Homo sapiens: one gene and its partner. The protein of the gene in region 1 purifies or fractionates together with the protein of each later gene. This does not show direct contact. Each region holds a gene or a part of one and is shown on either strand. Other genes may lie near its edges.

Region 1 (16,756 bases):
CATTAGCTTTACAGATCTACAAAATGAAGTGACATCTGCAGAATCTTTTCAGTAACATGATTAATGCAATATCCTTGGCATTGCTAGTGCAGTGTTTTGAAGTGTTAGGGGAATGTACATGTGGAAGATGTCCCCAGTTATCTACTGCAAAGGATAATTAGCACTGCTTTCCATTTTTTGTATTATAGTCATTCATCTGTCTTTATTAAATGTTTTGGTGATATAACAAGATCTTCCATAGATTTTTTTTGGCCAAGAATCTACCCAAGAACGTACCAAGTTTGTATTAACAATAACCATCTCATTGTCCTAGGTGAGAGGATCCATTCCCAAAACGGACTGGGGCAAAAACTGAGAAGTAGGTAGATCCTGGAAAAGTAAACCAGGAAGTTCAAATTTTCATTATCTTGTTTGAAATCCTGTGTGCTTTTTTAGACTACCTGGATTATATTTACTTGTAAATTTTTAAAAACTAAAAGCATAAGCAAGTGGTATTTGAATAACAGAGTGCTTTGGATTTTCATTTCACTGCCCTTTTGGATTTTCATATGTAACCTTTTGGTTACACATGAATCTGTATTTGTAACAACGACCCCAACCACAACCAAGCAAGCACCGCCCACCTCCTCACCTTGATGGTCTGTATTGCCCCGGATCCTCTTAGGTCTCGCAGGCTGTCTATGGCTTGCTCTGGTGATATTGTGTCAGACAGGTATAGTAGGAGACAAGCAGCTACTAATGGAACATGACAGAAAAATAATATGTTATTAAATAACTAGTGACAGGGTACAGCATTTTATATTTAATAAGACTTCTGTTGATACAGAAGACTGGTGTAATTGTTCCAAATGAATTAAAAGACTGAGACTTTTAGTGTGTGTTTTTGACAGTTAAATTATGATCTTAAATGACCGTATGGTTGAATTAGAGTTTAACACTGGCTTCATTCTTTCATCCATTTAAAGTGTTCATCCATTCAGTGATTTAGTATATTTACAGATATGTGCAACCATCACCACAGTCAATTTTAAAGCACTTCATCACCTCAGAAAGAAGTGTACCCTTTTGCTGTCATCCTCTATTCCCCATCAACCCCTGCCATAGGCAACCACTAGTGTACTTTGTCTCTGTAGATCTGCCTATTCTGAGCAATCACATAAACGGAAACATACAATATTTTTTTGTGTGTGTCTGACTTCTCTTAGCATAATGTGTTCAGGGTTCATACATATTGTAGCATATGTCTGTATTTAATTCCTTTTTATGATCAAATAATATTCCATTGTATAGATATGCCACATTGTGTTTATCTGTTCGTCAACTGATGGACATTTAGGCTGTTTCCATTTTTTGGCTATTATGATTAATGCTGCTATAAACATTTGTATACAAGTCTTTGGGTATATACTTTGGAGTGAAATTGCTGGGTCATATGTTAATGTTTACTTGTTTGAAGAACTACTGCTAGACTATTTTCCAAAGCCGCTGCACCATTTTACATTCCCACCAACAGTGTATGAGGGTTCGAATTTCTCTACATCCTTGCCAATACTTGTTATTTTTCATGTTTTTATAATACCCTTCCTAATTGGTGTCAAGTGGTATCCACTGTGGTTCTGATTTGCATTTCCTGATGACTGATGATGTTGAGCATCTTCTCATGTGCTTACTGACTATATGTGTATCTTGCATGTAGAAAGGTTTATTCGGATACTTTGCCCATTTTTCAGTTATGTTGTTTGTTTATTATTATTATTTTTTCTTTTGAGAGAGACGATCTCACTTTGTCATCTAGGCTGGAGTGCAGTGGTGTAAACTCGGTTCACTGGTGCCTTGACCTCCTGGGCCCAGGCAGTCCTCCAGCCTCAGTCCCACAAGGAGCTGGGACTACAGGCATGCACCACTATGCCTGGCTAATTTTTGTATTTCTTGTAGAGATGGGGTTTCACCATGTTGCTCATGCTGTTCTCAAACTCCTAAACTCAGGTGATCTTTCTGCCTTGGCCTCCCAAAGTGCTGAGATTACAGGCATGAGCCACGACGCCCGGCCTATCTTTATTACTGAGTTGTAAGAGTTCTTTTTATATTCTGGATACAAATCCCTTATCAAATATATAGATTGCAAATATTTTTTCCCATTCTATGGGTAGTCTTGTCATTTTGATAGTATTCTTTGAAACACAAAAGCTTTCAATTTTGATATCATCCAACACTAAAAAAATAACTACTACTCCAGTGTGGCATTTCACGAACTCTTTTTTGTTTTTCTTAGTACATTAAAACATTTTTTAAATTAACATATAGTAATTAACTTTGGTATTCATAAATAGTTACCCATGGAAACTATTTGGAAGTTACTCTATTATAACACCTCCACAGGAAGAACATCAAAAAATGTTAAAAAATAAGAATGCAGGTGTTAAGACTTGTAAATGATGTTTTGCCAGAATCCTCCAGAACAATGCTGAAAATACCTCCCACTCCCACCCAAGCTTTCCAGGGAACACCATGTTTAGGGCCTTAAGTAATCCTTTGAGTCTTAGCAAACTTATATTTTGCTTGGTTCCATTTTAATACAAAATGAACATATGGTCTGGAAACAGAAGTTTGTCTATTTGGCGGTTAAAAAAATAATAGAAATATATTTCTTACCAAGACAAGATCTCCCAAGTCCTCCATAGCAGCTGAAAGGGAAATACAGTTTTGAAGTTTGTACATTTCATTCCATCCCTAGTTACAACTAAAGACTTGCTCTTTCTGCCTTCTATTTACAACTCTAATGCCTAGCACAGTGCCTTGCACACGAAGATTAATAAATATTTTTGATTTAATCAACTGAGAGCAAGGTGTGCTTATTTCTTTGTTGGGAGGAATTCTGAACACCTCTAAGCATCAAGATAGGCAGAGTCTTCTTATTGACCTCTTTAGGTTCCAAGATCCACATCTGAGAAATGGAGCATGTTACCAATAGATAGAAATCAGACTTTTACCAACTGTCACTTTGATTATTCCTCTGTCTAAACAAAATCTGAGTGGTTACTGCACAAATGCCATGTAGATAATAACCATTCATGTATCTAAAGGAGTCCAGAGATAGGGTATCACCGAAGTCTGGAGCATGGGCTCTGGAGCACCACTGCCTGGGCTTCAGTCCTGGCTCTGCCACTTATTAGATGTGTAAAGCTAAGCAAGTTATTTAATCTCTCTGGGACTCAGCCTTTTCACCTTTAAAATGGTGATAGCAATAGTATGTACATCAGAGTGAGGATTAAATGAGGCTCACAAATGAGTGAGCATTTGCCAAGGACTTAGAACACAGCTTTGTGCAGAGTAAGAAGTAAATGAACATTAGCTGCTGTTATCTAGCACTGTAAAGAAATTAGCAGTTTTGTATAACTGGATTTTCCAGAAAAATGGAGATTAATCCTCAGTAGCAAAACTATTCATTTAAGTCATTTTCAAAGATCCTAAAAAATGTATTACATGCTTCCTAATGTACTTAGAGGGTATACTGAGCCTAATTTAGTGTGGATGACTTATCGTTATGGACATCAATTACTGTATTGTATTGTATTGTATTGTAGGTAAAGCTGTAGATATATATTTTGCTTTAGGATGTGAAATAGAGGACTGAATAGGTATTGACCCCTAGTCTTACTCGTGAACTTGCTTTCCACAAAGTGTTCCAGACATAGAACTGTTTCAGAGATCTGGATCTACCATATAAAGGGAGAGGCTGGGCATGATGGCTCAGGCCTATAATCCCAGCACTTTGGGAGGCCAAGGTGGGAGGACTGCTTGAGTCCAGTAGTTTAAGACCAGCTTTGGCAATAAAGTGAGACCCTGTCTCTCCAAAAAAAAAAAAAAAAAAAAGCCTGGCACGGTGGCGCACACCTGAAGTCCTAGCTACTCGGGAGCCTGAGGTGGGAGGATCGCTTGAGCCCGGCAGTTCAAGGCTACAGTGAGCTATGACAGTGCCACTGCACTCCAGCCTGGGTGACAGAGAAGAGACAACTGCCTTATTAAAAAAAAAAAAAAAGATCAAGATAGAACACTTCAGTGTCTTTTTGCAAGATTAATACTATTTTATACCTTTTGCTATTTTCATCTTTTTTCTTCTATTTGATGAATTCCTACTTATCTTTTAAAACCTCAAATTTCATTTCCTAAAATGCCTTTGTGCTCCTACAGAAAGGATCATTTTCCTGTGTGCTGCCTCTCCTGTCTTATTGCAGTTAAATGGTAGTGTTAGTTATAGGTTCCTCGAAGGTGGGGACTGTGCCTCGTTTGGTAGTCTTGGCGTGTGGTACACGGTAGGTGTTACTGGTTGAATTATGTCCCCCCAAAAGACATGCTGAAGTCCTTATCCTGTACCTGTGAGTGGGACCTTATTCAGAATTTGAGTCTTTGCAGGTATATTCAAGTTAAGACGAATTAGAGCAGGCCCTCATCCTAGATGACTAGTGTCCTTACACAAGGACAACACCATGCAAAGACACAGACATCCGAGGAAGTGTGTGATGACAGAGGCAGACTGGAGGGATTCAGCTGCAAGCCAAGGCCTGCCATGGATTGATGGCCACCACCAGAAGCTAGGAAGAGGCATGGAAGGACTCTCCTCAGTCTCAGAGGGCATGGCTCTGCTCTCATCTTAATTTTGGACTTACATCCTCTAGAAATGGGAAAGAAGAAATTTCTGTTGTTTTCAGCTACCTGGTTTGTGGTACTTTGTTACAATAGCCCCAAGAAACTACAAAATACAGTAGGCAAGCAGTGTTGTTCACTAATTTTATAAAGGGCTGCAAATGTCCAGGCAGAACCAGTGAGACAGCACTGGTAGACAACAGGTCAGTGAAAAAGGTTTACCAGATCCTGTTGCTGAAGGATAAGCTCTATAGCTGTCTAGAAGTGTGGGTCCTCAAAGATGGCAGAATGGATAGAAAATAAACTAGTCACCGTAGGACACCTTCGAAAGCTCTAGGACAATGAAAAATGCCAGTTGTCAGATGCTTTATTTTATGGGAGACTGAAACATTCAGCATATGCAAAGTCACCCATCTACTGTCTATCCTGTTTGTACTCTGCACAAACATCAGAGCATTTGGGTTGCCAGAACCAGCTACAGTAGAATTTGTTAAGCTTCACTTCACTAAACAGAGCTAGTTTGATTTCTGGAAACTTTTCAGTAGAGGCTGCTTTCAAAAATTTATTTGAAAAAAAAAAAAAAGATCTCAAAATGGTTTGAAAAATAGGGCCCTATGTTGGAAAATATTTTTCCCCAGCTACATTTAACTATCTAATACTATTTTACCTATATGTATCAGAAACTTTCACATCATCAACTGGATCTATTTGAAATTTAGCTTTTATAATTAGTACTGGTTAAGTGACTATGCTTTTTCCATAGAGGAAGATGGGAAACAATAGGATGTAGAATGGCTTCTAGTTCTCTACTGCATATTCTGCAAACTATATTTCTCTGTATGTCAGAGTTCAGTTTGGCCACAAACAGGTGTGTGTCCCCAAAGACCCTCGTACTAGTTGGTTTGCCTTCAGAACTGACACTGTTGGCATGAGGCCCCTGGGCTATAGGTTTAAGAGGAGAAGTTGGCTGGGCTTGTCCTATGACTAGGTGCCCTGAGAACCCCATGGCTATTTGATATAATTTCTATACTTCTAGCTCAAAGCAATGTCCTTAAGGAACTTGGGGCTTTTGAGGTCGTAAACTATTTAATACCCTACCTTATTCGAGAAAGGATTAAGCAGGTTATTAGAATATGAAATATACATTATGCACGGCAAAGTCCAGTTTCCTCCCCATGGCTGGCTCTCTGTTGCTTTGTGTGTTTCACTTCCGGCAGAGCATCTCTTGTTTTTTATCCACATCGCCCCTTTGAATCTTTGCCATGCTACTATCTACTGCCCATTGCCACTCTCTCTGGCCTTCCTCCAAGCTGCTTTTCTTTCCTCCTCATTTTGTCCCCTTTCCTTAACCCATCTTCTTTTGTTTTAAACTTTCACACCAGCAGCTTGTGTTTTTATAGCCACTGACACACAATGAGAGGCCCTCTTTCAATCTGTTAGCAGTCATATCATCAAATGTAATTTTCAAGTCATATTTTTAGGATTGCTTATTGCTTAGAGGTAACTTTTTTGGTAGCTAATTTTGAAAAAATCGACTTTCTTTATTTTTTTTTTTCTAGATGGGGTCTCCCTGTCACCCAGGCTGGAGTGCAGTACTGTCACCTTGGCTCACTGCAACCTCTGTCTCCCAGGCTCAAGCAGTTCCCCCACCTCATCCTCCTGAGTAGCTGGGACTACAGGCACGTACCACCATGCCTGGCATGTTCTTTTGTATACTTTTTGCGGAGATGGGGTTTTGCCATGTTGCCCAGGCTGGTCTTGAACTCCTGAGCTCAAGTGAGCCACCCACCACAGTCTCCCAAAATGCTGGGATTACAGGCGCGAGCCACTGCACCTGGCCAAAAAATTGATTTTCTTGCTATTGAAAGCAACTAAGCAATTGAAAAGCTAATAAGTGAGGCAGTGATGGTGATGAGGGGAAAGGAGGGTCCCAAAATTGCAACTAAAGGTCTAAGACTAAAGGAAAGAAATAAAAAAGAAAAGCTTGTAACCTTGTTCTAACAATTTCCAAATCTACTCATTTATTGTCCCTACTCTTGAAAAGTAATAACAGCACGTATTTGACTACTTACCCTGTACCAGACATTGTGCCAGTGCTTTCCTAGTGCATTATTACCTTTTAATCCTTACAACAAACTATGAAGTAGGTGATAACTGAATAGGGCTACCATAATTCCAGAAATCATTTTGACTGAGACATTTCTCACATAGTGTATGGAGAAAAGAACGTACTGTATTAAGGTTTTTCGGTAATTTTTAAGGCAGGTTGTAAGCTCTTCCATTATTTCACAGCAGCTGGCTATGTCAGGAGTCCCTCCATCTGCGATTGGATGATGATGGGTGATAATTCCACATTGCTGGTAGAGATCCAGAAGGTTTGGGACTCTATATTTTGACAGTTCCCCTCTGGTGCAGAAAACAAATATGTCTTGTATACCACAGCTCTTTAGTTCTTCTGCCAATAGACCAGGATACACAGACACACACACATAGAAAACATCACACATTTAAATACCATCAAGAGGGAGAATATGAAATTAAATTTCTTAAGCCAAACTAATACCAAATGACAATCTATAAATCTGAAGTGCCTATTGATATGTCTGAATCAAAAGGGGTCTAGAATTAAACCTCATATTACAAGTCAAAATGCCTTTTACTGAATTTCAAAATAAGTCAATTGCTGTTCTTGCAAAAAATTTTTTTTTGCAATGAATACTGCTTTAAAATAACCCCCCCTCTTTTTTTTTTTTTTTTTTTTTGAGATGGAGTCTTGCTCTGTCACCAGGCCGGAGTGCAATGGCACGATCTCAGCTCACTGCAACCTCTGCCTCCCAGGTTCAAGTGATTCTCCTGCCTCAGCCTCTCAAGTAGCTGGGATTACAAGCATGTGTCACCACGCCCAGCTAATTTTGTATTTTTAGTAGAGACGGGGTTTCACCATGTTTGTCAGGCTGGTCTTGAACTCCCGACCTCAGTTGATCTGCCCGCCTCCGCCTCCCAAAGTGCTGGGATTACAGGCATGAGCCACCATGCCTGGCATAAAATAACTCTTAAAACACTTAAAATTGAGTAGCAAATATGGTTGATTTTGTGAGAAAAAGAAAAAAAGTGCTATCAATTAAGGTATGATAGATCTATGTTCAATTAAGGATGATAGCACTTTTTTTCTTTTTCTCACAAAATCAACCATGTCTGCTACTTCATCACTTAGCTGTTTGCTTGACTCTGAGTATTGTATATAAAATCTCCAGCATGGCCATGGTGTCAGAGGTGCTAGTATTCTCCCTCATATCTGCACTGTAACACATCCTTGTGTATTTAATTTTATAGACTAGGTCGCCAGTAAATAAAACATTACCTGTATTAAACTTCTGTGACCTAGCTATTCTCATTATAATGATATGAATACTATAGGCATTCTATACACTAGGACTTCTTTATGGCAATATTAACTATTGAGCATTTGGTTTAAAATAAATAACTGGATGATCTAAGTGCTCCCAACTCCAGCCCTCTCCCTGTCCCTTAAATCCAAGGACATGTAGCTATTTAAGTACAAAGTACCTTCTCATGAACTAATCCCTGAGATGTACAGTACTATACATCTATTTGCCTTTTGTACACATTTGGTAATTTTTATTATCCAGTGATTTTCCAACTTTCTGAGAAAGGGCTAAGAAAGTATCTCAGGAACTGCTGCAGGGAGATTCTAGGTCTCCAATCAAACATATTGACCTGTTTTATGTACTGGATTCCATTTAAGATTTCATTGCAGAAAAAAAAGTATTTTGAAAAAAATTGGAAACTGTTTTTATAGAAAATGCTAAATGAATATGACATTCCAAAATGTACAAGACTGACTTTGAACCAATGATTTAAATTACATATATTTTGCTTATGACCTAAATGTTCTCCAAATAGAAATTTCCTAGCATGGTGGGTGTGTCTAAAGCAGAAAAGTTTTATAAATACTATAAGGGTCAACTATCTATTACTGTCTTTAAGTCTTTTTTTGGTAGGTAAGGAATACTTTTTTTTTTTTTTTGAGGCAGGGTCTTGCTCTGCCACCAGGTTGGAGTGCAGTAATGCAATCTCAGCTCATTGCACTCCAGCCTGGATGACAGAGCAAGACCTTGTGATCTCAGCACCATCTCAGCTCACTGCAGCTTTGACCTCCTGGGCTCAAGTGATCCTCCCATCTCAGCCTCCCAAGTTGCTGGGACTACAAGCACGCGCCATCATGCCCAGTTAATTTTTGTATTTTTTGCAGAGACAGGGTTTTGCCTTGTTGCCCAGGCTGGTCTCGAACTCCTGAGCTCAAGCGATCAACCCGCCTCGGCCTACCAAAATGCTGGGATTACAGGTGTGAACCACTGCACCTGACCAGGAATAAATTTTTAAAAGTACATTAGCAAACTGATGTTCTAGAATAACCACGAAAAGTTTTTAAGATTCAGAAAATCTATACTAGTTAGAATCAAGCAATATATACATTTTAATTTGCCATACTATAAGGATATCGGTAGGACTAGTAGGTTTGAGACATTCCAGGCCAATCAGAATAAAATCTTTTGAAAATCCACATTTGTTAGTATCATGCAATATGTAAATTCCAAATTGGGGCAGATTATGAGGATTATTAGACTTGTGGCTATAATGGTATGAACATCCTTGAGCAGGCAACAACCAGTTCCCATTCTGTCTTTTCCATCTAGATGCTGGCTCTCAAAATTTTCCATCCAGGATTCACAATTTCACTGCTAACTTGGAGTTCCCAGCTCATGTTTAATTTCTACTACCACAGTCAAGTCTGCAAGGAACAGTAAAGACCTGGGGGGAGCAATATGTCAGTTTCCTATTTACATACTTTTTTTCATGCCAACTTCTACATTCTAACCTCAAATGTAGTTTATATGTATAATATAACTACAACAATCAGTGAAAAGCAACTCCATGGTTAGGTAAATGATGGTCTTCACAAATACCTCTTTACATATCAGAATAAGTCTATAGTTTGGAACTTCACACAATATTGAAAACTTATTTTTATATTAAAAAAAAACTGATTTGTTCTTTTTGACAGAGAGTTTTTCAATGCTATTCATTTAAAAAACCCATGAGTGTGGTTGCGTGATATTATACCTACCTGTATCTTTTTGGACATTTCTTCTAACATCTTTAAATTTACAACCTATAAGTAATAATAAAGCAAGTAAAAAAGTCAGTTTTTCGTCATATGTAACAGGTATGTTTAAACACTTATATAGCTACTTTATAAAGTCATTTCACGTAATCATTTATATGTTTCAATTATATTTTGAATATGAATTTCAATTTCTTATATTTCTAGGAATATAATTACAGGGATTCATCCTAAGCAAGGATTCTGTATTCTGTGTTTCTTCTGTAACAAGTACCTGGTTGTAGTCCTCAGCCTCATTTGTACTCCAGGCTTTAAGCTTTATTAAGATTGGCAAAGTACAAGTGTAGGGCTGTGACTGCAGATCTGGAAGGGCTGAAAGGTAGATCTATGTTCCTTTAACTATAGTCCACCATGAGGGCTTCGCAAAGTGTGTTCCCCAGTGCTGATGGTCTGTGAAATTTACTTATTGCCCAGTATAGAGAATGATGTGTTAGTTGACCAAATACTTGTTCTAAATATATTGTTGGCACGGATGTGGTGAAAAGGGAACACTTTTACACTGCTGGTGGAAATGTAAACTAGTACAACCACTATGGAAAACAGTGTGGAGATGCCTTAAAGAACTAAAAGTAGAACTACCATTTGACCAGCAATCCTACAACTAGGTATATACCCAGAGGAAAAGAAGTCATTATATGAAAAAGATACTTGCACACACATGTTTATAGCAACATAATTTCCAACTGCAAAAATGTAAAACCAGCCCAAATGCCCATCAATTAATGAGTAGATAAAGAAAATGTGGGATTCCCGGGCAAGATGGCTGAATAGGAACAGCTCTGGTCTGCAGCTCCCAGCAAGACCAATGCAGAAAGAAGACGGGTGATTTCTGCATTTCCAACTGAGTGGTACTTGGAATGCCAGCAAGACAGAACCATTCACTCCCCTGGAAAGAGGGCTGAAGCCAGGGAGCTGAGTGGTCTTGCTCTGTGGATCCCACCCCCAACGGAGCCCAACAAGCTAAGATCCACTGGCTTGAAATTCTCACTGCCAGCACAGCAGTCTGAAGTCAACCTGGGATGTTCCAGCTTGGTGGGGGGAGGGGCATCCACCATTATTGAGGCTTGAGTGGGCAGTTTTCCCCTCACAGTGTAAACAAAGCCAGTCGGAAGTTTGAACTGGGTGCGGAACCCACCACAGTGTGGAAAAGCCATGGTAGCCAGACTGCCTCTCTAGATTCCTCCACTCTGGGCAGGGCATCTCTGAAAGAAAGGCAGCAGTTCCAGTCAGGGGCTTATAGATAAACTCCCTTCTCCCTAGGAGAGAGCACCTGGCGGAAGGGATGGCTGTGGGCACAGCTTCAGCAGACTTAAACATTTCTGCCTGCTGGCTCCGAAGAGAGCAACAGATCTCCCAGCACAGTGCTCGAGCTTTGCTAAGGGACAGACTGCCTCCTCAAGTGGGTCCCTGAACCCCGCGCCTCCTAACGGGGAGACACCTCCCAGCAGGGGTCGACAGACACTTCGTACAGGAGAACTCCAGCTGGCATCCGGCAGGTGCCCCTCTGGGACGAAACTTCCAGAGGAAGGAGCAGGCAGCAATCTTTGCTGTTCTGCAGCCTCCACTGGTGATACCCAGGAAAACAGGGTCTGGAGTGGACCTCGAGCAAACTCCAGCAGACCTGCAGAAGAGGGGCCTGACTGTTACAAGGAAAACTAACAAACAGAAAGCAATAGCATCAACATCAACGGAAAGGACGCCCACGCAGAAACCCCCATTCAAAAGTCACCAACATCAAAGACCAAACGTAGATAAATCCGCGAAGATGAGGAAAAACCAGAGCAAAAAGGCTGAAAATTCCAAAAACCAGAATACCTCTTCTCCTCCAAAGGATCACAACTCCTCGCCAGCAAGGGAACAAAACTGGACAGAGAATGAGTTTGATGAACTGACAGAAGTAGGCTTCAGAAGGTGGGTAATAACAAACTCCTCCAAGTTAAAGGAGCATGTTCTAACCCAATGCAAGGAAACTAAGAAACTTGATAAAAGGTTAGAGGAACTGCTAACTATAATAACCAGTTTAGAGAAGAACATAAATGACCTGATGGAGCTGAAAAACACAGCAGGAGAACTTCGTGATGCATACACAAGTATCAATAGCTGAATCGATCAAGCAGAAGAAAGGATATCAGAGATTGGAGACCAACTTAATGAAATAAAGTGTGAAGACAAAATTAGAGAAAAAAGAATTAAAAGGAATGAACAAGGCCTCCAAAAATATGGGACAATGTGAATCAACCAAACCTATGTTTGACTGGTGTACCTGAAAGTGACGGGGAGAATGGAACCAAGTTGGAAAACACACTTCAGGATATTATCCAGGAGAACTTATCCAACCTAGAAAGACAGGCCAACATTCAAATTCAGGAAATATAGAGAACACCACAAAGATACTCCACGAGAAGAGCAACCCCAACACACATAATCATCAGATTCACCAAGATTGAAATGAAGGAAAAAAATGTAAAGAGCAGCCAGAGAGAAAGGCTGGGTTACCCACAAAAGGAAGCCCATCAGATTAACAGCATATCTCTCTGCAGAAACCCTACAAGCCAGAAGAGAGTGGGGGCCAATATTCAACATTCTTAAAGAAAATAATTTTCAACCCAGAATTTCATATCCAGCCAAACTAAGCTTCCTAAGTGAAGGAGAAATAAAATCCTTTACAGACAAGCACATGCTGAGGGATTTTGTCCCCACCAGGCCTGCCTTACAAGAGCTCCTGAAGGAAGCACTAAACCTGGAAAGGAACAACTGGTATGAGCCACTGCAAAAACATACAAAAATGCAAAGACCATCAACGCTATGAAGAAACTGCATCAACTAATGGGCAAAATAACCAGCTAGCATCATAATGACAGGATAAAATTCACACATAACAATATTGACCTTAAATGTAAATGGGCTAAATGCCCCAATTAAAAGACACAGACTGGCAAATTGGATAGAGTCAAGACCCATTGGTGTGCTGTATTCAGGAAACCCATCTCACGTGCAGAGACACACATAGGCTCAAAATAAAGGGATGGAGAAATATTTACCAAACAAATGGAATGCAAAAAAAAGCAAGGGTTGCAGTCCTAGTTTCTGATAAAACAGACTTTAAACCAACAAAGATAAAAAAAGAAAAAGAAGGGGATTACATAATGGTAAAGGGATCAATGCAAAAGAAGAGCTAACTATCCTAAATACATATGCACCCAACATAAAAGCACCCAGGTTCATAAAGCAAGTTCTTAGAGACCTACAAAGAGACTTAGACTCCCACACAATAATAGTGGGAGACTTTAACACCCCACTGTCAATATTAGACAGATCAGCGAGACAGAAAATTAACAAGGATATCCAGAACTTGAACTCAGCTCTGGACCAAGCAGACCTAATTGACATCTACAGAACTCTCCACCCCAAATCATCAGAATATACATTCTTCTCAGCACCACATCGCACTTATTCTAAAATTGACCACATAATTGGAAGCAAAATACTACTCAGCAAATGCAAAAGAACAGAAATCATAACAAACAGTCCCTCAGACCACAGTGCAATCAAATTAGAATTCAGGATTAAAAAACTCACTCAAAACTGCACAACTACATGGAAACTGAACAACCTGCCCCTGACTACTGGGTAAATTAAGGCAGAAAAAAAGAAGTTATTTGAAACCAATGAGAACAGAGACACAATGTACCAGAATCTGCAGTGTTTAGAGGGAAATTTATAGCACTAAATGCCCACATGAGAAAGCGGGAAAGATCTAAAATTGACACCCTAACATCACAATTGAAAGAACTAGAGAAGCAAGAGCAAACAAATTCAAAAGCTAGCAGAAGACAAGAAATAACTAAGATCAAGCCGGGTGCGGTGGCTCAGGCCTATAATCCCAGCACCTTGGGAGGCCAAGGCGGGTGGATGGATCATGAGGTCAGGAGATCGAGACCATCCTGGCTAACACGGTGAAACCCCCGTCTCTACTAAAAATACAAAAAAATTAGCTGGGTGTGGTGGTGGGTGCCTGTAGTCCCAGCTACTAGGGAGGCTGACGCAGGAGAATGGCATGAACCCGGGAGGCAGAGCTTGCAGTGAGCCGAGATTGTGCCATTGCACTGTAGCCTGGGCGACAGAGTGAGACTCTGTCTCAAGAAAAAAAAAAGAACTAACTAAGATCAGAGCAGAACTGAAGGAGATAGAGACATAAAAAGCCATTCAAAAAATCAATGAATCTAGGAGCTGGTTTTTTTGAAATGATTAACAAAATAGATAGACCACTAGCCAGACTAATAAAGAAGAAAAGAGAGAAGAATCAAATAGACACAATAAAAAATGATAAAGGGGATATCACCACTGATCCCACAGAAATACAAACTACCATCAGAGAATACTATAAACACCTCTACAAAAATAAACTAGAAATCTAGAAGAAATGGATAAATTCCTGGACACATACACCCTCCCAAGACTAAAGGGACTTCTTCCCTCCCAGGAAGAAGTCGAATCCGTGAATAGACCAATAACAAGTTCTGAAACTGAGGCAGTAATTAATAGCCTACCAACCAAAAAAAGCCCAGGACTAGATGGATTCACAGCTGAATTCTACCAGAGGTGCAAAGAGGAGCTGGTACCATTCCTTCTGAAACTATTCCAAACAATAGAAAAAGAGGGAATCCTCCCTAACTCATTTTATGAGGCCAGCATCATCCTGATACCAAAACCTGGCAGAGACATAACAAAAAGGAAAATTTCAGGTCAATATCCTTGATGAACATCGATGCGAAAATCCTCAGTAAAATACTGGCAAACTGAATCCAGCAGCACATTAAAAAGCTTATCCACCACGATCAAGTCAGCTTCATCCCTGGGACGCAAGGTTGGTTCAACATATGCAAATCATTAAATATAATCCATCACATAAACAGAATCAGTGACAAAAACCACATGATTATCTCAGATCTGGAAAAGGCCTTTGATAAAATTCAACACCCCTTCATGCTAAAAACACTCAATAAACTAGGTATTGATGGAACGTATCTGAAAATAATAAGAGCTATTTATGACAAACCCACAGCCAATATCATACTGAATGGGCAAAAGCTGGAAGCATTCCCTTTGAAAACCGTCATAAGACAAGAATGCCCTCTCTCACCACTCCTATTTAACAGAGTATTGGAAGTTCTGGCTAGGGGAATCAGGCAAGAGAAAGAAATAAAGAGTATTCAAATAGGAAGAGAGGAAGTCAAATTGTCTCTTTTTACAGATGACATGATTGTATATTTAGAAACCTCATTGTCTCAGCCCAAAGCTGATAAGCAACTTCAGCAAAGTCTCAGGATACAAAATCAATGTGCAAAAATCACAAGCATTCCTATACACCAATAACAGACAAACGGAGAGCCAAATCATGAGTGAACTCCCATTCACAATTGCTACAAAGAGAATAAAATACCTAGGAGTAAAACTTACAAGGTATGTGAAGGATTTCTTTAAGGAGAACTACAAACCACTGCTCAAGGAAATAAGAGAGGACACAAACAAATGGAAAAACATTCCATGCTCATGGATAGGAAGAATCAATATCATGAAAATGGCCATACTGCCCAAAGTAATTTATAGATTCAATGCTATCCCCATCAAGCTACCATTGACTTTCTTCACAGAATTAGAAAAAACTACTTTAAATTTCATATGGAACAAAAAAAGAGCCCATATAGCCAAGACAATCCTAAGTAAAAAGAACAACGCTGGAGGCATCACGCTACCTGACTTCAAACTATACTACAAGGCTATAGTAACAAAAACAGCATGGTACACATGCCAAAACAGATATATAGACCAATGGAACAGAACAGAGGCCTCAGAAATAACACCATACATCTATAACCATCTGATCTTTGACAAAACTGACAAAAACAAGCAATTAGGAAAGGATTCCCTATTTAATAAATGGTGTTGGGAAAACTGGCTAGCCATATGTAGAAAACTGAAAGTGGACCCCTTCCTTACACCTTACACACAAATTAACTTAGGATGGATTAAAGACTTAAACCTAAGACCTAAAACTCTAAAAACTGTAGAAGAAAACCTAGGCAATACCATTCAGGACATAGGCATGGGCAAAGACTTCATGACTAAAACACCAAAGGCGATTGCAACAAAAGCCAAAATTGACAAATGGGATTTAATTAAACTAAAGAGCTTCTGCACAGCAAAAGAAACTATCATCAGAGTGAATAGGCAACCTACAGAATGGGAGAAAATTTTTGCCGTCTATGCATCTGACAAAGGTCTAATATCCAGAATCTACAAGGAACTTAAACAAATTTACAAGAAAAAAACAAACATCCCCATCAAAAAGTGGGGTTGTAAAGTATAATAAAAAAAGAAAATGTGAGATATACATACACACACACACACACACACACACACGCACACACATGCCATGGAATACTACTCAGCCATGAAAAGGAACAAAATGGCATTCACAGCAACCCGGGTGGAACTGGAGACTATTATTCTTTTTTTTTTTTTTTTGAGACAGAGTCTCGCTCTGTTGCCAGGCTGGAGTGCAGTGGTGCGATCTCGGCTCACTGCAACCCCTGCCTCCTGTCAAAGCAATTCTCCTACCTCAGCCTCCCAAGTAGCTGGGACTATAGGCACGTGCCACCATGCCCAGCTAATTTTTGTATTTTTAGTAGAGACGGGGTTTCACCATGTTGTCCAGGATAGTCTCTATCTTCTGACTTCGTGATCTGCCGGCCTCGGCCTCCCAAAGTGCTGGGATTACGGGTGTGAGTGACTGCACCCGGTCACTGGAGACTATTATTCTAAGTGAAGTAACTCAGGAATGGAAAACCAAACATCATATGTTCTCACTCATAAACAGGAGGTAAACTTTGAGGACACAAAGGC
Region 2 (16,756 bases), on another chromosome or scaffold:
GAGATGAAAATCAAAACTACAATGAGATACTACTTCATGCCCACAAGATTGGCTATCAGGAAAACACAATAATAACTGTTGGAAAGGATGTGGAGAAATTCAAAGCCTTATCCATTGCTAGTGGAATATAAAATGGTGCAGACACCATAGAAAACAATTTGGCAGTTCCTCAGAACGTTAAACAGTTACTATATGACCCAGAAATTCCACTCCTAGTTATATCCTAGTTATATACCCAAAAGAACAACATGTCCACACAAAAACCTGAATCAGAATGTTCACAGTAGCATTATTCATAAGACAAAAACTGGTAAGAAACCAAACCTCCAAAGAATGAATGGATAAACAATGGATTATCCAGTCATTAAAGGAAATGAGGTACTGATACATACTATGACACAGATGAACCTTGAAAATATTACATTAAGTATTCAATAAGCCAGACACAAAAGGCCACATATTGTGTCATTTCATTTGCATGGAAGGTACAGAATAGACAAATCTATAGAGACAGACATAGATTAATGGTATTTGGAGTGGGAGGAGACAGGGTGGGAATGGAGAGTGACTGTTAATGAGTACTGGATTTCTTTCAGAAATAAAGAAAATGTTTTTAAAAAGAAGTCATACCTCCTATCCATCCAGACACATTTATTTCTACAACCAGCAGACAACAAGGTAGGAAAAATACAAAAAATAAAAAGGGTGCCAGGTACGATGGCTCACGCCTGTAATTCCAGCACTAAGGAAGGCCGAGGCAGGCGGATCACTTGAGGTCAGGAGTCTGAGACCAGCCTGGCCAATATGGTGAAATCCCATCTCTCCTAAAAATACAAAAATTAGCTGGGCGTGGTGGTGAGCACCTGCAATCCCAGCTACTAAGGAGGCTGAGGCAAGAGAATAGCTTGAACCCTGGAGGCAGAGGCTGCAGTAAGCCGAGATTGCGCCACTGCACTGCAGCCTCGGTGACAGAGCGAGACTCGGTCTCGAAAACAATAATAATAAAAATAAAAAAGGATGAAGCCAAGCTGGAGGAAAGAGGTCACCTAGAATTTACCACTGAACTTCCACGCACCAACCTTGAAATCCACTGATATTTTCAAATCGTAGTAACTTACATATCTGGAGTTTGGTGCTATTTGTTACCTCCTTTTCTTCCTTTACCATCTACAAATTCCTCTAATTTTTGGTTTTCAATTTTATGAATGACAGATACAAGCAGTTTATGGCCAATTAATTAATACTGAGAGTTCTCAGAATGCTCCAAGGAAAAATAATTTCTGTAAGGTATTTGGAAACTCAAGAAAAGCAGAATGGAATAATCTGAAAGAGAACCCTGGGAAAGCCCTGTTAAGAGAGAAAGAGTTCACTAATGCATTTTCAAATGGACTCAGTGGAAAGCAGCCAAAGGTTTAAAACAGGTTTGAAAATTGCTATAATGACCAGACTGACAGTCAACCAAACTTCTATAAGTCCTACTGGGAGAGTTCTAATGTTCTTTTGATTTCTCTGTATGAAAACACAACCTGCTTCTAGGAGAACCTTTATGTGAAAGAAACTGGATTCAGTTCCTAGAAGAAAAGCTGGGGAATTACTGTGACAGCCATCTCCACCATAACTACATCCAGGTTGGCCACTGCGGTGGTCACTTGTCACCCAGAAGAAAGTCCTGCACTAACTGTGTCTTCCAATGTAGTAAACCCAGGGAACCCAGGCCCAATGCATGAGCCTGAAAGAAACAACTCTGACGCAATGCTCACTCATCACTGGAGGGTCACAAGTACTTTTTAAAGTCAGTTTTATGATTAAACAAGTGTAAGAATTAGCATGTTCAATATAAGCAAAGAACGAACATATGTAGACCATCTACGTGTGTTGCTTTATTAAGTTAAAATTTTCAATAAAATAGAACAGCACCTTTTATCATATAAACAGATTTTAAGCACGATACTCAAAATTTTCAAGTTCTGCCCTTGAGCCTCACTGCTTTGCCATTTTAGGATGTATGCCCACTAGTTTCACAGAAACAATAAATAAGAAAAATGTTTGTTTCCATAGCATCCTATACTTCCCTATCAGAGTTTCACACTTTGTTGTAAATAGTTATTTGTCCATTACTCCCACAAAATTAACTTTAGTAGGAAATATGACCAATCCCCAACGTTTAGTATAGTAACTGGCAAATACTACACGTTCAGTAACTAGTTACCAAAAGAATAAATATGAAAATAATTAATTATGTATTACATAATCTCAATTTCAAACCCAGCATTGAAGACTGTCTGGTACTACCAACACCCTCTGAAATTGCCAGCAGTTTCACTCAGCAGTCCACTGACCCCTCACTCTCTCACAGAATGTTTAGCATCTTCTACACAGTAACACTGCAGCCTAAGTTCTGCAAATACCAAGTAAGTTAGGAAATAATACTGTTCCTGTCTGTCAATAACATTATTGCCTAAGTAGAAAATCCCAAAGAATCTACACACAAACACAATCCAAGAATAGATGAGAGTTCAACAAGGTCACAGTACCCAAGATCAACACAAACATACAAACACACATATGCACACATATTTTCAAATAAGACACATTCACAAAAGAGTCCCCTGGCATCAGTTATAAGTTCCTTCTCTCTTCCAAATAATGACCTCTCCCACCAACCCCAGGAATTAATGGGCTTGTGCTCTGACTCAAGTCACTTTTGAGACAGTTTCTTTTTTACAAAACTATTTCCACATTTGTCAAAGATGCAATGAAACATCTCTAATATATAATGTGACCCTATAAAAGTATATTCTAAGTCAGAATATAGGAAGGTATAACAAACGTACACATTAAAAGGGTGACTGGTTTGCACAAAGCTAAAAACTATAAAATCCCTACTAATACCTTGGTTACACCTTCAATACACTTTTAGCATTTTGTACATACATTTGTTTTACTTTCTTCCCTACTGATCACAAGCCTCAAAAAAAAGCACGTCTCGTGTCCAGCTCCGTGACAAGATTTACCCACTATTTTGGCTCACCTTAATACAATCTAGACAAATATATCATTAATATTGACAAGTACGTTTCTCATCCCTACTCAGTATCTGCACTTTTAATTTTCCGTCTGCCACTTATTTTTATGATATGGGGGGAGGGGGTTCAACTGCACAAACACACTGTTAAAGATAGCATTGCTAAAACTAAACAGCTGGTTGGTAGGCAGCACACCATGTTGCAGCCTGAAATGTCTGCCATCAGGAGATAATAAAAAGTTCTAATTTGGTCTATAAAAGGCAGTTTAAAGGTGTCAATTACACCATGAAATACATGCTGCCCACGAGTCAAACACATGAGAGATGAGACCCACCATACTTGAGAGCACTCTATAAAAAAATAGGGAGGCACAATATAAAAAAGTATTGTTATGGTGATGATTTTCAAGAAGGTTGAAAGTATCACCACCTAAGACTGGAATATTTCCACAGAAATAAGATTCCGCAGAAATCACTAAGACCTGGCTTGACATTTTAATGAATATCCTATAGGCAGTAAAAATTTAAAATATCCAAGTTTATAAATATTACATGTATCGCATTTGAGCTCTTCTGAGTTATGAAAAGTTAACTCCACTTTCATAAGATGGACAGAGATCTTAAATTTAGAATTAAGTGGAAAGCAAAATGGAACACAAGTTTTGATGCAGATAAATACAAAGAAATCCATTTAGGAAACAAACCTAACTGTACCTAAATGAAAACTCAGACCTCATAGAGATATACTCCAGAATTCATTCTAGATTAGCTATTTAAATAAAAACACTAAAATCAGAAAGCTAAAAGAGTATTAGGCATCACTAAGAAGGCTGGTGGGGGGGGAAATCTATGATATACCACTCTTATAAAAGCCTTGATGCCTTAAAATACAAAATGAAACCAAGAAAAAACAGAAAAAAATGTAAAAGGGAGAACTATAACATTTAGAGTCAATTAACATTTATTGAGTGCTGAAGGCCTGTGTCAGCAATGTTCAAGATACTTTTCCCATGTTACCAATTTCTACACAGATTTAAGAAATTTAGAATGGGAATAAAGTAGATAAAGGATAAAAAGATCTAAGACTGACTCTAGAAAAGTCACTGACAAGGTGACCATGGATATCCTTGCGAAGTACTAGAATAGAAAAACTTGAAACTTGAAAAGGTAAGGTTGGAATTTTTTAAAAATAAGGGACTATTTCATTTTGTCTGTAGTAAAATAAACTGCGGCCCATTGAAATTTGGGATTCTTGTGAGCTACTTCAGCACCTAGGACACAGCGGCTGCTTAGAGGAAAGAGAAAAGGCACAAATAGAACACATTCATTTTTTTCTGGAGGAGGTAAACACTGAAAACAAAATTTTTCCAGTATATTAGTAGCTGGTAAATCTGCAAAGTAAAAGAAAGTATGGTATTTGGTGTTCAACTCCTGACCTTTCAGAGAACAGTAGACTGACAGACACGTGTTCTGATCCAGAGAGATTATTAAAGACTGTGCATCAAATTAGAGGCACAGTGTGCTGCAAACCAAACATGAGGGGAAAAAAACGAAATAAAGTTAATATTTAGAGTGAAATTACATGGTACAGACTAATAGTGCTCCTGGAGCAAAGAACAGTATCAATGACTATCATAGAGAAGACAGGAAAGGCTTCAAAGTATATGAGGCAAGAATTGCAGAGAGAAGAAAAAAGATACAGGCACAAGATTTTAAACATATGTCTGTGACAGTCACATTTTAGAGAACCTATTCACTCCCTTCAAATTCCAAATATAAAGACTTAATCTCTAGGCATCTCATTTATCTCTGAAATGAATGGTGGAACCACATTAGGTTTCCTGTAGCATTGGAATCTGGATTTCATATTTAAAAATCAAACTCAGGCCAGGTGCAGTGGCTCACGCCTATAATCCCAGCACTCTGGGAGGCCGAGGTGGGTGGATCATTTGAGTTCAGGAGTTCAAGACCAGCCTGGCCAACATGGTGAAACCCCATCTCTACTAAAACTACAAAAATTAGCCAGGCGGTAGTGGCGCATGCCTGTAATCCCAGCTATTCAGGAGGCTGAGGCAGAAGAAACACTTGAACCCAGGAGGCAGAGATTGTGGTAAGCCGAGACACTGCAATCCAGTCTGGGCAACAGAATGAGACCCCCCCTCCCCCACCCCCCAAAAAAACAAAAACAAAAACAAAAAAAAATCAAACTCAGATTTCCACCTTCCCCTCTCCTAAACTTCCTATTTTCTACCTGGTTCCATAATGATCTACCCATCATTCATGTTTAAAACCTTGGATTAACCTTTGGTTTTTCCTGCCCTTTTCTCCTACTCTGCCAGACTCCATCTGTGCACCAACTCCTGGTCATTCCTTCCCTCAGAAATCCCTTTCATGTGTCCCTTTAAATTTCTACCACCAGTACCCAAAGACAGGTCCCTATTTCATCAAATCTAGGTTGACACTTAGCCTTAGCTAACGTTCTTGCCTCTAGTCAAACCTCACTCCCAACTCCAAACCAACCTAAATACTGCTGACAACTGGTCTCTGATCGTGTCCCTGTCCCCTCCCTATTCAAAATGTCCCCACCCCACCCCAAAGTAATTCAATATCTTCCCAGTCTACTACTTTCCCTGGTATCCATGGCTTTACAAAACCTGATTCCAATTTAATTTTAATGCTCTTATCGCCTTTCCCCTGCAATCTGGTCCTTCACCTCTCACTCCTCTACACCTTTGTTCTTGCCATCCTCCCCTCCAGGCACTCCATCTGCTCTTTCTGCTATCCATATTCAATCTCTGCTACTAAAACTTCCCATAGGTAAAAAGAGTCTCTCCTTGTCTCAAATCCCACCCCTTTTTGTCCACACCACTCATGTAGCATCTAGCCTAGATACATAACCGTGCATTACAGGGCACTGCTTTTGTTTGTGTGTTTGTTAAAAAATGCCAGTCTCATCTCCCTAACTGGACACAAAGTTCTTAGAGGATGAAAATGCTTGTTCTTTGTAACTCCTAGAAGATTTTGCTTAGTTCTACCTATAAATGGTGATTAATAACTACTGATGAGGTGATCTAAAGTTCAGTTGAAATAATGCCCATCTACTCCCATGCAGTTCTTTCTAAGGGCTCTCTCTCTTCACTGGTGTCTGTACTCACCAGAAGCACTGTTATACACTGTGTGCCGTGGTCTTGTTTTTTCCCCCTTTCAAATATGAGTCTGGTCTCTCCAACTAACTTCTAAGTTCCTTAAAGACTCTTTCTTATACCTTTTAAGCATTCTTTACAATGTTAAGCAGACCACTGGACACAGAGTGGTATTTAACATAAACCAGTAATAAAGACACCTAAATATTACCCAAAATGTCTCAATTAAACAGTGCTTGGGCCCGGCGTGGTGGCTCACGCCTATAATCCTAGCACTTTGGGAGGCCAAGGCGGGCAGATTACGAGGTCAAGAGATCGAGACCATCCTGGCCAACATGGTAAAATCTCGTCTCTACTAAAATACAAAAAAAAAATAGTCAGGCCTGGTGGCATGCGCCTGTAATCGCAGCTACTCGGGGGCTGAGGCAGGGGAATCGCTTGAACTTGGGAGGCAGAGGTTGCAGTGAGCCAAGATCATGCCACTGCACTCCAGCCTGGGTGACAGAGCGAGACTCAGCCTCAAAAAAAAAAAAGCTTAACACCACTTAAGGCACAGACTTTATAAATAACACGTCTACCCTGTTTTACAAATTTCAAAGCCAGTTCACGTCTATTATTTATTTCACTCTCATAACTCTGTGATGTCAGTTTACTGAAGGAAAAACTGGCTAAGCAAGATTGTAGGATCAGGCCGGGCGTGGTGGCTCATGCCTGTAATCCCAGCACTTTGGGAGGCTGAGACGGGTGGATTACTTGAGCCCAGGAGTTCAAGATCCGCCTAGCCAACATAGTGAAACTCCGTCACTACTAAAAATACAAAAATTAGCCATGCATTGTGCACACCTGTAATCCCAGCTACTTGGGAGCACAAGAATCGCTTGAACCCTGGAGGCAGAGGTTGCAGTGAGCTGAGATCACACACCACTGCACTCCAGCCTAGGTGACAGAGTGAGACTCTGTCTCCAAAAAAAAAAAAAAAGATTGTAGAACCAGTAAATTGGCAGTGCAAGGATTCAAACCCAGACCTCCTGGGCCCAGGGTCAAAATTTTAGGTACTATTCCACAAATACAGATTCATCTTCTCAATTAGCCTCCAAGTTCCTGGAGGACCAGGGCCATGAATAATGTTTCTTTTAAAAGATTCTCTCCTCATCTCCTCCCAAATGTCTTCATGTATCAATAAGATGAATTAAACCTATATGAATTCTGCAGATACAACAAACTCATCATAAATAACACACAGCCTGACACTACATTGTGCCCCCATAACAGACGAAATCACCATCCAGGCCTCCATCTTAAGTGGAGAAAGACTTGGTAATATAAGCCTATGGCCTCTCCAAGCGACATTCCCAAACAACCATTTTGAGCTCAGCCACACAATCACCACACCCATATAAGGTGAAAGCATACTGTATTTCTCAAAATCCTCGAGTCCTGCCAGACAGTCTAGTCTTTGTTCTCTGAAGGGTTGAGTTAACATCTAATCTAAAGAGAATGGCCAGAAGTGTCTGCTACTCTCAGAGCTTTCAAGGAAACGTCCAGTTAGAGAGCATCATCTCCTGGAAGTACCACGGGTCTCCAAGTACACATAGCTCAGAGCCAGGGCCCTCCACAATTTTCTCCCTAAACTGCATTTTTGGATCATTTTTAAAGATTTTGGAAGCCTTACAGATGAAGAAGCAGGGCCCTAAATAAAAATAAGTTAGTTTTAATATTCCAAGTGAACAGTTTGCTAAAACACCATTTTCATCATCCTAAAGACTAAGAGACTAAGACATGAAAACAACAGAAACTTCTCTATTAGCTCTAGTATGACAGTATCACAGAAGTGTTGGCAAGTTTCTCCTTACCAATGTTATTATCCAGAGTTAGAAACTACTTTAGAAATAAAATAACTTTAGGAAAATTACTTTACTATGTCAAGCATTAAAGTAATTTCAAAAAAGTTCTAGAGGAACATGAACCAAGTTGTATTCTCTAGTCTATAGATTAAGTCATACTAACAACTCACTACTTGAATTATATGAGCATTATAGTTAGGAGGCCAGGCAAAAGCTGAGAAGGCGAGGCTAGTCAGGAAAACATCTCAGAGAATGTTACTGATATAACATGTAGCTGTTGCACTGTAATAGACATATATTACTCTGTCTGGGTTTAAGTGTTCCTTTCTAGAACTGTCTCTTTACCTGATGAACAGTGTATTATAAGGCCATATACCTCCTGAGGGGGTGAGCACAGCTCAAGGTGGCCAGAAGACCTCACTCCCTGGTCCCAGTTACTGATTCAGGGAAAGGATCCATAACGGAATAATAAAGGTACTCCCTGGAGTATCTCCAACAAAATGGCCATGTTCCTGTCTTTTGAGCTCCATTGGTCATCTCTACCCCATGTGAAGAAAACTACCCTGAAAATAAAGCCAACAGTTGACAGAAGAGAACAAGATCAGTCCTGATGACATGCCTGGTGCCCCTGGAGCCAGCCTAGCCCTAACCTCAGCCTATTTATACATCAACAAATTCCATTTTAATGAACACTATTATGTCACCTGCCAGTCTAAATGAATACGGTGCCAAATAAAAAAGAATTAATTATCTCCAGAGTACGTCTGGAAAAAGAATGGCTAACAAAGTTAAATCTACTTCTAAACCCAACTGGAAACACCAATATACTGACTTTTTATTCTTACCACCTAAAATGGCCTAAATAACTTGAGAACCAGTCTGTTCTTCTCTTAGAATGTTTGAACAATGTCCTCCCAAACTTTTATTTATGACCTACTGATATACTATTTTCCAGACTAGATGTTAAAAACAGATATCAAATTGTATTCAAAACAAAGTCACTATTCTCTCAAGAGTGTCTTGTTAGTATTTAGCAAAAGTCTGGGTAACAAATGGGCAACCTGGCTATGAGGCCTACTCCATGCACACCAAAGAATAAGGCTAAAAAGGTAAACAAGCTACAAGTCTACCAAGCCCCGATATAATACATTTACTTTCATTCAAAACAATATATTCAACACTGGTCGGCTCTGAAAAAGCACAGATCATTCATATATACAAATAAGCATACTTTTCAACACATGTGTTTAATATACACAACCCAAATTCTAGATTGGAAGATTATACCTAACATGCGACCCTCAACCTCTGGTTTTTGTGTACTGATGCAATATCATACCACAGCAATGAGTTAAAAATGTGACCTCCACAAGTTTCTTTTTTTGTTTTTCATGTTTTACTTGCCTACTTACCTTCTCATTTGTTACCTTCACATTTTTAAAAAGAAAGCAGTTCTCCAACTGGTAACCAAAGTTTCAACAGTTTCTTTGATTCACCAAAGAGATAAGGGTAGGAGTTATGGTTTACATGAGTTTTACTACTAGAAGTCACAACATACACACACACCAAAGGAGTTTTAGGTGCTAATACAGTATATGTTGATCACTCCCACAGATGAAGACATCTTTACCAACTTGCAAAGTGAGATAACACTAAGCCTTAATCATAGTAAATGGAAATACATATCTGATGCGTTAAAGAAAAAAGGAAAAGTGACAAATCGTCATTTCACTGGATTCTTTTAAAATTTTTTCTGGAGGTCGGGCGCAGTGGCTCACGCCTGTAATCCCTGCAGTTTGGAAGGCCGAGGCGCGTGGACTGCTTGAGGTCAGGTGTTCAAGACCAGCCTGACCCACATGTTGAAACCCCGTCTCTACTAAAAATACAAAAATTAGCCAGGCATGGTGGCAGGTGGTGCCTGTAATCCCAGCTACTCAGGAGGCTGAGGCAGGAGAATTGCCTGAAGCCAGGAGGCGGAGGTTGCAGTGAGCTAAGATCGCACCACTGCACTCCAGCCTGGGTGACAGAGGGAGGCTGTCTCAAAAAACAACAAAAAAATTTTTTTTCTGGAGACTGGCATTTATGTCTGTGAAGTGGGCAACCAGGTGGTCCAGGAACAAGAGTAGAAAGATTTTTCAATGGGTGTCCTTTTTTATCATTTGAGTTTATACCATTTGAATGTACTATTCACTGGGTTATCTTTTTCATTGTTTGAATGGATACCATTTGAATGTATGACTTACTAAAAATTAATAAATAAATTTTAAATTTAGAAAATTCCTTGAAAGTCACTTTCAGAAACCACATTAGAACTCCGTTAGTCTAAAAATAATCAGAAAAGAATACTGCATGTCCTTTACTCTTACAAAAACTGCAATTTTCCCAAGTATACTTTTAAATGTGTCCTGAAACCATTACCAACTGTTTCTGCCTAATTTTCTTTCACAAAGTATGAGTGCAGAATACCAGCAAAACATGATAAATAGTTCTTTTCTGTTTTTCCCTTCCACCACAGAGGTGCTAATGGGAAACAATATAAATTTGCCAATAGGAAAAAAATGCTAAAAGGCATATACTCACAAATCAAATCACTAAAAGTTAACCATACAGTAGTTAACCCTGTTAAGCCAGGGTTATCCAAAGCACCGCTCCCATACCACTGATGCGAATGGTAATTTTAGCTAGTATGTAAACTAATATTTTAATTGTTATGAATTTATTTTAACATGTAGTTTATTATACCTAATACCTACATACCACATGTAGGACTACACAAATATCACTGCCTAAGATAAATCTACTTAAGTAAAATCGTGAATCCATCTGAAAAATAAGAGTGCACATGTGTATGAGTGAAGTTTTAGAAGCACCAGTGCACTATACAAATTAGATCGAGGCACACTGGGAATGACCACCAGCCTACATTAACCACAATGAACTTAGACCAAACTTCGTGCTCACAGGGAAACTCTCACTGAAAGGCTGGCACAACTAAATGACAGAAGCTGTGATCTCTATTCCTCTTACCTTGGACACCTCACTGCAGGCTCTGGATCACTCCCCACCCTCCTATCTACCACCCTAAGGTTTCTAATTCCAAAGGCATGAAGAGAAGTCTAGAGTCAGTCTCCAGGGAGAGGAATGTCTTGGCCTCGGCAGAGCTCTTCAGTATTCTCCCTGGTTCTTATTGCCTCTTCATGTTTCTATTACACCTATGTTGTCCCTGAACCACCAATATTCCCTAACTGTCTATGGCACCAAGTCGAAGCCTGCACTTCCCTCTCAGAGCCTTATATTCCATTATTGTTCTCTGCTGCAGGCCTGATACCAGTCCAACCCCATTTAAAAGAAAAAAAAAAAAAGATATTCCTGTTGTCAGGCTGACGGATTTGGCCAGAGGTGGATTAAATGGCAGAGCACAAACCAATTCACCAGGTATGAGAGACCAGCCCATACTATCCTCATTTCCCCAAGTGTATCTGCATTAAGAAACTTGCATTTTAAAAAAGATTAACGAGAGAAATTTTATGTAAAAGAATTTCAAGCTACTTAAAGGTGATTTAGACCACCTGAGAAATTTTAGGGCTCACTGCAGGACTATCTCCCAGCCAGCAATCAGGCAGTATTTACAATCTGGAATAAGGGTGCTGAGACTAGAAAAGGGTTGTCAATGGGCTTACTAACTAAACTCTTATTTATGTATGATCAGTTTCCATCACAAACTATCCTAACAGCTCATTTAGTATATAGCTGTCTGCTCACAACTTCAGAGATGAAAAAAAAATTTTAACATAAAACATTCATCCTCAGAAACTGAACCAATCCCTTTAGGTTGGCTAAAGGATGCTTCTGCAACAGTCATTCACCAGTATGATGCAATGATGTGTTCTATATAGTCCTCAAAAATTCTGTTTTATTCATACCAGATTCTTGCAAGTATTACCACAAGTAATCTCAGAGAATGAGGTCCAAAGTCCTGACAGAGGGGTCCCAATTAGAGCCTCTCAGGTTATCAGAATCATTTGCCCAGACAGGTATATTCAGAAGCCCAAAAATCTTCCCTTTAAACTTGAAAATAGAGTTCCAAACTCAGTTTTCAGTAAAATACCTTTGAGAAGGGCATATTTAAGTTTCAATGTAATATCTACCACATCACCTGCCGAGAACTTTAATTTAGAAATCATCTGTTTTCAAAAATACCATAGCCCAGATGCCAAAGCATGATGTTTATCTTTACACAAAAAAACACCAAAAGAAGAAAGATTTTATTTGGGAAACTAGACCTGGCACTTGTGGTATTTATTTTCTTTCATGTTTTATAACTACCTTTAGTCACTTAATCCTATTATTGAAGAATTAAAGGAAATCAAAGAGATACCAATATAAGACTAGCAATTTGGTAGACAAGAGGGAAAAAATTAGGAGGCTGAAAAGGGAACACACAAACTCACCAACTCAGACTGTTTTTAACAGCATAGCATACTGTGTGGCCAATACCCCTCAAACCATAAATTCTGAGAAAAGTTCCCTAGTACCCAGTGGAGAGTCAAAAACAAATTCCTGCCTCAGCAATTTCTCACCATCATTTTATCCATCTGAGCCTGGCCCTAAATTTTCTAAAACAAAGCTCACAATCACATCCCCCTTCAACTTACATCCTCTCTCATGGAAGAAAGGTACTTTCTGTTCCATCATTTTCCTCTCAAACTCTGCCTATGACCTGGTCCCTAAAAACGAAATGTTCCTTCCACCTCTCCAAGTCTAGGCCCTTCATTCTCTTCCTCCACTGGTTCCTTGGCAGGGCCGGGAGCACAGAGGGAATACCTCCCACCGCTGTACTGGATTTCCCACACCTCGGTTCACATCGAATTTTTCTTCTTAACCCCCAGTAATCTGGCTTGTCTTAGCAATTCTATGAAACTGCAAGCACAGAGGGTTACTGACTCCCAATAGCCAAATAAAAGCTGACCAATCTCTCCTTTTCTAAGTCCTCGCCCTTTTCGATTTCTGCTGGCTCTATCTAGCCTTGGCTCTCCACTCGCCAAGGAAAATTCAAGACTGTGGTTAGACTCTAGTCTTTCTTCTGTGCAATCTAAGTGATCCCCTCCACTGTCCTCCTAGAAATGACATCAGAAAACAATCTTAGACCTATGCATCTCCAGCCACCAGTAAATAGGAAAGCCCTCGATTCTATCTTCATTAAGCCCTTCAACCTTACTTCACATGTCCAAAACCAAATTCAAAGTCTTCCCAGGATTCCTGTCCCATTCCACCTTCACTTCCCTGTATCTACCAACTATATCATCATCGCCACGTCAGTCAAATTTCCCTTCACAGGCAGCCACCAAGGTCTGCTCGTTTTTCCATACTAGTATTGCAACTCCTATGAGAATTAATACGGTTTTTCCATATTAAAATCTCATCCACTATGACTGCAGGTTTGCTTCCTTCCTGGAGTTCAAAAATGACTGCAGTGTCCAGAATGAGAAGCTGCTGTAAGACTCCTTTCCCATGGACCAGCACCCATCCTCAACTGAAACGCAGTCTGGGAAAGTGTGAAAAAATGAAGGAGAAGGAGAGAGACACTCAGCTAACGCCACTGCCCTCATCTCACCTGCCACAAATAATCTGCATCTTCCCCCAGCTACCAAACCGTCCTTCACATAAATTTCTGTTCAGCCCACAAGCTGAAAAGCCCCCTCAGCCTCTTATTAAAGACCCATTAAATAAGTCCTTCACTTCTTGATCAAAAGGAATCATCGCTGTGACTTCTAAAGTGTAAGAAAACCAAACCTTTAAAAGTACCTGTCCTCAGGGCTTGGGGCAGTAAAAAAAAAAACAATCTAGGTGAAACACCTTCTATAGGAAAATTTATTTTTTTTGAACGAACTTAACCAGGCAAAGCAAGTAACTAGCAACATGTGCACAATTTACTTGGGCAAATGTCGCCCGTTCCTCCTCGGTGTCATCAGAAGGTACACTGGGAGAACAGAAGGGTTGAATTGAGCTGGTTTCCAAGGAACCATGTCAGAGCCGCTGCGGAGTTAAGAGCTGCGTCCACACAGCAGCCAAATCATGAAGTTGCAGGAGCGGCTGTTGTTAACCCACAGCTAAGAATAACGCTCGACTTTCCAAAATAAAACGAAGAAACGAAGTCCCCTGGCCAAGGATTCGGGGCGGCACAGAGGGGAAACGGAGCTTCCTGCACTGCCCTCATCACTCAGAACCTGGGGTCCCAGGCGATTCAGTCACCGCCCACAGAACAGCGCCGCGGGCACCACGTGAGACTCCCGGGGCCGGCTGGGAGCGGGGGACGAGGGGCGCCCACTCGGGGGTCGGCAGTTTGCAGGTGCGATGGGCGGCCCCCTCACCCACGTTTATCCGGACTGGAGCCCGCCGCTCCCGGCTGGGTTTCCGGGTGGTTCGCGCTCCTTCTGAATTGGCAGCGAGGTCGCGGCAGGTTCGAGGTAAATCGGACGAAGAGGGGAAAAAGTCTCAGGGGTCTGGGGGCCTCCGCGCCTCAGGGGAGGCAAGGGCCGGGCCAGAGGCGCGAGGGTGGGTGAGGGATTCCCGCCGCGGGGCCGGGACCGGGGCTCGGGCAGTGGGCCATGCCCCGCGCGCCCACGCGGGCCGCCCTACCGTGGCTCTGCAGGATCTCGTGCTTGAGGCCGCCGGTGTAGTCGATGAGCTCCTCCAGGCCGCGCTCGCACAGCTGCCCGTAGCCTGAGAACTTGTGCAGCACCTTCTCCAGCTCGCGCTCCACCGTCACGCACTGATCCATGCCGGAGGCGGCGGCGCTCGGCTCCTCGGCGCCCAGGTGTCCGCAGCCGTTCGGCCCGGGCCCCACCGAGGCCGCGTCCTGCTCCTCGTTCCCCAAGCGGGCGGCGCGGGAGGCTGAGGCGGCCGAGGCGGCGGGCGCACTAGCCGCGGCGCCGGGGGAGCCCCGCGCAGCCGGAGCCCGCCTGCCCCATGGCGCCCTAGCCCCCCGGCGAGTCGCCGCTGCTCCCGTTCGCTCGCTGCACTCGGCTCCGCGTCCCCAGGCCCCGCTCGCGACGTTCGGGTGCCTGCGACGGCGCGGCCGATTGTTTTTGTTTTCACGGGAACCGACCGATGACCTGGTTCTCCCGGGCGGCACCAAGCGCCGCCGACTGGGGGGAGGGGGATGGCCACCCGGGCGAGGAAAGGAGGCGGCGCGGGCCGTACCAAGTACACCCTCGGGGTGGGGGGTGCGACCCGGCGAGAACGGGCGGAGGAACGCGACGGGCGCCCACACGCGCCGCCACTCTAATGGTGTGGGCCGTACCACACGGAAGGCGTGCGAGGGAGAGGGCGAGGGTGGAGCGAGGCCCCAATTGGCCTGAGGAGCTAAATAGGGAACTTTGGAGACAGCCCCAGCGCTCGGAGAGCGCAACAACTACGCGCTCCATAAACAAGGAGGCGGAAACCGGCCCTCACCACTCCGCCCAGAAGCGGGGAACCCCAACCAATGGGCGCGGGGAGTGGTAAGAAGCCAATCCCTGGCCGAGGCGTAAGCCTTCAGCCAATCCGGGCTGAGGGGCCAAACCAACGGGCTCGCTGTTGGAGGGGGTGACTTGGAGAGCGTACCGAGAAACGAGTAGTTTATGGAAAGCCTTGGGGGAAAACTAGACAAAAATACAAAAGGCTGTTTTCCATAGGACGTCGCCCTGATCCCAATTTATTTCGTCTCCTCATCGATCTTAAGGGAAAGGGGTACCGTCATTCCGAACTTTTGGGCGACGGATCCATCTCCCGGGAATGAAAAACCAAGCCAGGCCGCCCGGGGGCTGGTTCTGCGTCGGCGGGGGGTCCCTAATGGGAATTAAAGGCGGGGGTGATTGGGCCCGGGTGAGGGGAGCCGCTTGCTGCTCGCGAAAGGCCCGCGCCGGCTGTCAGCGCTGCCCCGGGCTTGCGACACCCAGGAGGTCATGTCCCCATCCCCCGCGGACCGTGGCCCTTTGGCCCCTTGGCCTGGAACCTCTCCTGACGGTGGCCTCGCCCCAGAGCCATGTGCCGGGCAGCTTAGCCGGGTGGAAAGAACACGCGCTGGAGAGCCGGGCAGCCTGGCCCTTGCTCCCTAGGAAGCCTTATGCTATCGGATCGGATCGGCTTTACCCCCTCGGGTAAATCCTTCCCATCGCTTGCTATGGCGTCTGCAGCCTTGGCCTAGACCTCCTTGATCAGCATCGGCTGCACTACCTTTGCATTTCTTCAGGAGCCCAGCTAGTTCGTGCCTCAGGGCCTCTGCACTTGCCCTTTCCTTGGCCCAGAAAACTCTTCCTCCTACCTTTTTCATCCTGAAGTTCTTCTCAGCTCACTTGTCCCCTTACAGGGTCCTCCCCTGGCTGACCACACTAATGTACTTCCTCCCCACCGTTAATACCATAACACATTTTATTATTTCCACACCACTTAAACTCTGAAATGATCTGATGTTTTATTTTTCTGTCTGCACCACTTACATAAAACCATGACGGCAGGCCCCCTGCTTGTCTAAATTTTTTGCCTAGAACAGCCCCTGGCGTGAGGTGGTAGGCAATTCTTTTTCTTAAATTAACGTGATAACGTTTTTGAGCCTTAACTTCCGTATAACTGAGAAATAATTGGAATTAATACTTAACTAAATTGTTAGATAAAGGAGAATATATGTAAATACCCATAATAGGCTCATGATAACCACATGATAAAGGTGGTAGTAGTCATTATTAGGGCAGCCCCAACTGGTA

What was found.
Region 2: the proteins of CDKN3 (region 1) and RMND5A purify together in Homo sapiens (affinity purification with western blotting; 2 studies listed by BioGRID, with this or other methods). This does not show direct contact.

What each region holds. Positions count from the first base shown.
Region 1 is NC_000014.9:54,401,827-54,418,582, reverse strand, and holds part of CDKN3 (cyclin-dependent kinase inhibitor 3), read right to left. Parts: intron 9,839-16,756; coding exon 9,794-9,838; intron 7,100-9,793; coding exon 6,877-7,099; intron 2,685-6,876; coding exon 2,653-2,684; intron 736-2,652; coding exon 632-735; intron 370-631; coding exon of another isoform or gene 310-369; exon of another isoform or gene 277-309; intron 1-276. UniProt on the Homo sapiens protein: May play a role in cell cycle regulation. Dual specificity CC phosphatase active toward substrates containing either phosphotyrosine or phosphoserine residues. Dephosphorylates CDK2 at 'Thr-160' in a cyclin-dependent manner.
Region 2 is NC_000002.12:86,718,705-86,735,460, reverse strand, and holds the start of RMND5A (E3 ubiquitin-protein transferase RMND5A), read right to left. Parts: upstream 15,171-16,756; 5' UTR 14,794-15,170; coding exon 14,652-14,793; intron 14,480-14,651; exon of another isoform or gene 14,339-14,479; intron 1-14,338.